Linked DNA regions of Homo sapiens: region 2 is linked to region 1. Evidence: fine-mapped expression QTL. A gene starts in region 1. The other region holds a variant in brackets. All regions are shown on one strand. Distances are between the middles of the regions. Region 1 holds the start of DAPK3 (death associated protein kinase 3). Region 2 has its middle 11 kb from the start of NMRK2.

The links. PIP is the estimated chance that this variant, and not a neighbour inherited with it, causes the effect.
Region 2: its variant is fine-mapped to the expression of DAPK3 in whole blood (INTERVAL, PIP 0.94).

What each region holds. Positions count from the first base shown.
Region 1 is chr19:3,969,820-3,972,726 of GRCh38, forward strand. It overlaps DAPK3 (death associated protein kinase 3), which reads right to left and starts at 1,280. Exons shown (of 9, transcript NM_001348.3): 1 at 1,102-1,280; 2 at 1-10. RefSeq lists enhancers at 1-331, 332-963 and silencers at 1-146, 1,135-1,264.
Region 2 is chr19:3,942,813-3,945,719 of GRCh38, forward strand. No RefSeq gene overlaps it. Among named protein-coding and RNA genes, the nearest start is that of NMRK2, 11 kb to the left of the region's middle. The variant C/A (reference allele first, on the strand shown) is at 1,401.

The sequences.
Region 1 (2,907 bases):
AATGGCAACCCTGGAGAAGACAGGGAAAGACAGAAGTGAGGAACTGAGACACCACCCTTTTCTCCTAGATTAATGGACAGACCTGTCCAGCAAACACAAGCCTCCCACCTCTCCACTCTGAAGCTCCAAACTCGACAAAAAGAGGTGCTGTGTTTACTGGGCTGGGTCCTGTCATGTCACCTCTTAGAGCCCCATAACCACTCAAAAGTTTGGTAACAGCCCCACTGGGCCACCTTCACCCCGCAAAACTCTCTCCAGACACATAATTCTGATTTCCCCGACGCTGCCTGCGTCTTTTTTTGCCTCTCACTCCTAGACTTCTCTCAACCTGCTCAGCCAAAATCCCCCACCATTCCTGCACGTTCTCCTCAACCTCAAATCCCAGGGCTACCTTACTCCCTGGCCAATGTCTTAACGAAGTTCTCAAGTCTACTTCTTTTGTTGTTGGTGTTGTTGTTTTTTGAGAAGGAGTCTCGCTCTGTCGCCCTGGCTGGAGTGCAGTGGTGCAATCATGGCTCACTGCAGCCTGGAACTCCAAGGCTCAAGCGATCGTCCCAGGCCTCCCAAAGTGCTGCCATTCCGATCAAAATTCCCAAGTTACTACCTTAACCCCTCCTGGTCCTTGCCCTCGGCAGGTCTCTTAAGACCCTCATCGATGGAACACCCCCGCCCACCCCCAACCATCTCTGACTCCCTCCAATTCTGAATTTTCCAAGAACCGGACGACGCCTTCCACGCTCCTGAAAGCCCACTTTGCCTCCCTCCCCCGCTGACCTCCACTGTCCTCGCAAGATTAACCTCTTCCTCCACGCTCCATGTATCAAAGTCCCCCAACCGCCGTCTCCCCTACCCCCCAAAACGGGCCGCCAAAAAGGGCCCCATCTGAGTCTCCTCCACCGTCCTCTGCCCCTTCTCGCCCGCAATCTCCGCACAAGCCCCTAGGCAGACCCCAGTGGCTCCCTTTGCAGAACCTCCCCCCGCCCCCAAGGCCTTGCCCATCCCTAAGGCTCCGCTCCAGCATCCCTGGGGCCGCTACGCCCCTCGCACGCCCGGCCGAGCCCTTTCCCCGGCCCGGTCACCCAGATGGGTCCCCAAACCTACCAGCTCCTCAGATTCTCTCCCTCCCTCGTCCTCCGCGGGCCCCCGAAGCGCCGCTCTGGCCCCACCCAGCCCTCCAGCCTCGGCCCGAGCCCGCTCTTTACCCTCCGCAGCCCGGAGAATACGGCCGGCGCCGCCGCGCTGGCCACCGCCGCCGCCTCCAGAAGCCCCGCGCCCCTGCCGCCGCGACGCGCCTGCGCCGACGTCACCGCACCCGCCAGTGCCCACCCCCGGGAAACGAACCCCGCCGCCTATTGGCCGGTGCGCCCGCCGCTCGTGCCGCACCTCGACGTCCCGCCCCCAGCTGCCTTTTCGGCACCCACACCCGGATGCAGCCTCACCACTGGCTGAACACTCGCCATCCCTGATTTCATTGGCTGCAGTCGACGCTGGTCAAGCGGACGGAAAAAAGGCCGACTTCCGGTCCCTTCATCGCCCCGCCCGCCTCTCCTCTGACCCAGGTGCTGAAGCTGCGAGAAGTGAGGCTGAAGCCCTGCATCCCGCTTCCTGCCTTCCTGGAGCACCGGTTGGGCGAATGGATGGCTCACCTGTGGCCGAGCGCGCCTGGCAGCTCCTGGAGTGGACCCTGGGACTGCTTTAGTCCCTATGTGGCAGTTTCCTCCACTGAAAACTGTTACCCACATTCTAAATACTTAAAATGCAAATGAGGTCAATCTGGGGTTGTCATACACAGGGTCCCTCTTCGTCTCAAAATAGAGGGTAACAGCAAGCATTTTATTGAGACATAGTATGTGCCAACTGACAACACTGGGAGGTATCAGGTTTGTTTTTTTTTTAATTTTATTTTTTGAGACAGGGTCTCACTCTGTCACCCAGGCAGGAGTGCAGCGGCGGTATCCAGCTCACTGCAACCTCCACCTCCCGGGTTCAAACGATTCTCGTGCCTCAGCCTCCCAAGTAGCTGGGATTACAGGTGCCCATCACCACGCCCGGCTAATTTTTGTATTTTTAGTAGAGACGGGGTTTCACCATGTTGCCCAGGCTGGTCTCGAACTCCTAAGCTCAGGTGATCCGGCACCTCAGCTTTCCAAAGTGCTGAGATTACAGGCGTGAGCCATTGCGCCCGGCCTAAATTCATTTTTTATTATTATTTTGAGACGGAGTCTCGCTCTGTCACCCAGGCTGGAGTACACTGGCACAATCTCGGCTCACTGCAAGCTCCACCTCCCAGGTTCACGCCATTCTCCTGCCTCAGCCTCCCGAATAGCTGGGACTACAGGCGCCCGTCACCACGCCCAGCTAATTTTTTGTATTTATTAGTAGAGACAGGGTTTCACCGTGTTAGCCAGGATGGTCTCGATCTCCTGACCTCCTGATCCGCCCGCCTCGGCCTCCCAAAGTGCAGGAATTACAGGCATGAGCCACCTTGCCCAGCCTTTTTTTTTTTTTTTTTTTTTTTTTGAGACAGTCTCCTTCTATCGTCCAGGCTGGAACGCAGTGGTGAGATCTGGGCTCACTGCAATCTCTGCCTCCTGGGTTCAAGCGATTCTCCTGCCTCAGCCTCCCGAGTAGCTGGGACTACAGGTGCACGCCACCACTCCCAGCTGATTTTTGTATTTTTAGTAGACGCAGGGTTTCACCATGTTGGCCAGGATGGTCTCAATATCTGTGATCCGCCGGCCTCGGCCTCTCAAAGTGCTGCGATTACAGACGTGAGCCACAAGCCGGCCTTTATATTTTTTATTTACATTTTCAACGTACAATGGGTTGGCCAGGTGTGGTGGCTCACGCCCGTAATCCCAACAGCTTGGGCAGCCAAGGCGGGCAGGTCACTTGAAGTAGGAGTTC
Region 2 (2,907 bases), 27 kb before region 1:
GAGGATTGCTTGAGCCCAAGAGGTTGAGGCTGCAGTGAGCTATGATCAGGCCACTGCACTCCAGCCTGGGTGACAATGCGATAACCTGTCTCAAAAAAATTTTTTTTCTCAATGCCTATAAATAAAGTTTTATTGGCACCCGGCCCCTGCCATTTGTACGTGTCAGCCCTGTGGCTGCTTTAGTACTACAATAGCATGTTGAGTCACCCTGACAGAGAAGGTCTGTCTGCAAAGCCAAAAATATTTACTATTTGCCCCTCTGTGCAAAATGTGTGCTGAACGGTGTGGTGTATGCCAGGTCGAGTCCAGGGCCACAGGGAGGGTCTGAGGTCTCCGTGCTGGAGGGGAAGCAGGAGTGGATATGGAATGGGAGGATGACGTGGAAGAGGTGGCTTGCCAAGGCTTCTCCTTCCCCATAAGCACAGAGTGTGGTAAGGATGATCTGCCGGTCACTGTGCCCAAAATAGTCCAGGACAGGACAGAGACATGAGGGAGGTGGTTCCAGGACAGCAGAAGCCCTGCCTGGCAGCCCAGATACCTTGGGCATTATTGTTCTTTTAAAAAAAAAAGAAAGGTTCATGCCTGTAATCCCAGCACTTTGGGAGGTTGAGGGGGGAGGATCACTTAAGCCCCGGAGTTCCAGTCCAGCCTGGGCAAGATAGTGAGACCCCCATCTCTACAAAAAATGATAAAATATTAGCAAGGCGTGGTAGCCCATGCCTGTAATCCCAGCACTTTGGGAGGCCAAGGAGGTGAATTGCTTGAGCCCAGGAGTTTGAAACCAGCCTGGGCAACAGAGTGAGACCCCGTTTCTGTTTTTATTTTTCTGTATTTATTTTTACTTAGTTATTTATTTTTGAGATGGAGTCTCGGTCTGTCGCCCAGGCTGGAGTGCAGTGGCGTGATCTCGGCTCACGGCAATCTCCACCTCCCAGGTTCAAGCAATTCTCCTGCCTCAGCCTCCCAAGTAGCTGGGATCACAGGCATGCACCACCACGCCCAGCTAATTTTTGTATGTTTAGTAAAGACGGGGTTTCGCCATGTTGGCCAGGCTGGTCTCGAACTCCTGACTTCAGGTGATCCACCCGCCTAGGCCCCCCAAAATGCTGGGATTACAGACGTGAAACACCATGCCCGGCTGTGAGACCCCGTTTCTACAAAAAATTAGCCAGGCATGATGACACATGTCTGTAGTCTCAGCTACTCGGGAGGCTGAGGTGGGAGGATCCCTTGAGCCCAGAAAGTTGAGGCTGCAATGAGTTATGATTGCATGACTACACTCCAGGCTGGGCGACAGAGCAAGACCCTATCTCAAAAAAAAAAAAAAAAAAAAACAAAACAAGAAGGGGAACAGTAGCCACAGGGTAACCAACCAAAAAACGGAAGATGATAAGGGTTGG[C/A]CAGGATGTGGAGAGAGCAAAACCCTTATGCTCTGAGGTGGGAAATGGAACACAGTGAGCCTGACGAGAAACAGTCTGGCCGTTTCTCAGAATTAAACATGGAATTACCATAGGGCCTAGCAATCCTGCTCCTGGGCAAGGCCCCAAGGAATTCACAGCAGGGACTCAAAGAGATCCTTGCACAGCCATGTTCATGGGGGCACAGCCCACAACAGCCAAAAGGTAGAGGCAACCCAAGTGTCCACAGACAGATGAATGAATGAACACAATGTACTCCATCCGTACATGAATATTACTGAGCCATGAAAAGGAAGGGAATCTGGACACAGGGCACAACAGGATGATCCTTGAAGATGTCACGCTCCGTGAAATAAGCCAAGGCCGGGCATGGTGGCTCACCCTTGTAATCCCAACACTTTGGGAAGCGGAGAGGGGTGGATCACCTGTGGTCAGGAGTTCAAGACCAGCCTGGTCAACATGGCAAAACCCCGTCTCTACTAAAAATACAAAAATTAGCTGGGCATGGCGGTGGCGTGCCTGTAGTCCCAGCTACTTGAGAGGCTGAGGCAGGAGAATCACTTGAACCCAGGAAGTAAAGGTTGCAGTGAGCCAAGATTGCGCCATTGCACTCCAGCCTGGGCAACAGAACAAGACTCCATCTCAAAAAAAAAAAAAAAAAAAGGGAAGGAAGGGAGGGAGGGAGGGAGGGAGGAAGCTGGGCGTAGTCGCTCACACCTGTGAATCCCAGCACTTTGGGAGGCTGAGACTGGAGGAGCCAAGGAGTTTGAGATCAGCCTGGACAATATAGCAAGACCCTGTCTCTACTTTTAAAAAAAATACTGGGGGGCTAGAGCAGTGGCTCACGCCTATAATCCCAGCACTTTGAGAAGCCAAGGCAGGAGGATCGCTTGAGCCCAGGAGTCTGAGACCAGACTAGGCAACATAGTGAGACCCTGTTTCTTTTTTTAATTTAAAATGTTATTCTTGGCCGGGCACAGTGGCTCATGCCTGTAATCTCAGCACTTTGGGAGACCAAGGCACCCAGATCACTTGAGGTTAGGAGTTCGAGACCAACCTGGCCAACATGGTGAAACCCCGTCTCTGCTAAAAATACAAAAATTAGCTGGGTGTGGTGGTGCACACCTGTAATCCCAGCTATTTGGGAGGCTGAGACAGGAGAATCACTTGAACCCAGGAGGCGGAGATTGCAGTGAGCCAAGATTGCACCACTGCTCTCCAGCTGGGGTGACAGAGGGAGATTCCATCTCAAAAAAATAAATTTAAATTTAAAAAGTAAAATAAAATATTTTTAATTAAAACAACTTTTTTGGCCAGGCGCGGTGGCTCACTCCTGTAATCCCAGGACTTTGGGTGGCTGAGGCAGGCAGATCATGAGGTCAGGAGTTTGAGACCAGCCTGGCCAACATGGTGAAACCCCATCTCTACTAAAAATACAAAAATTAGCCGGGCATGGTGGCACACGCCTGTAATCCTAGCTACTTCGGAG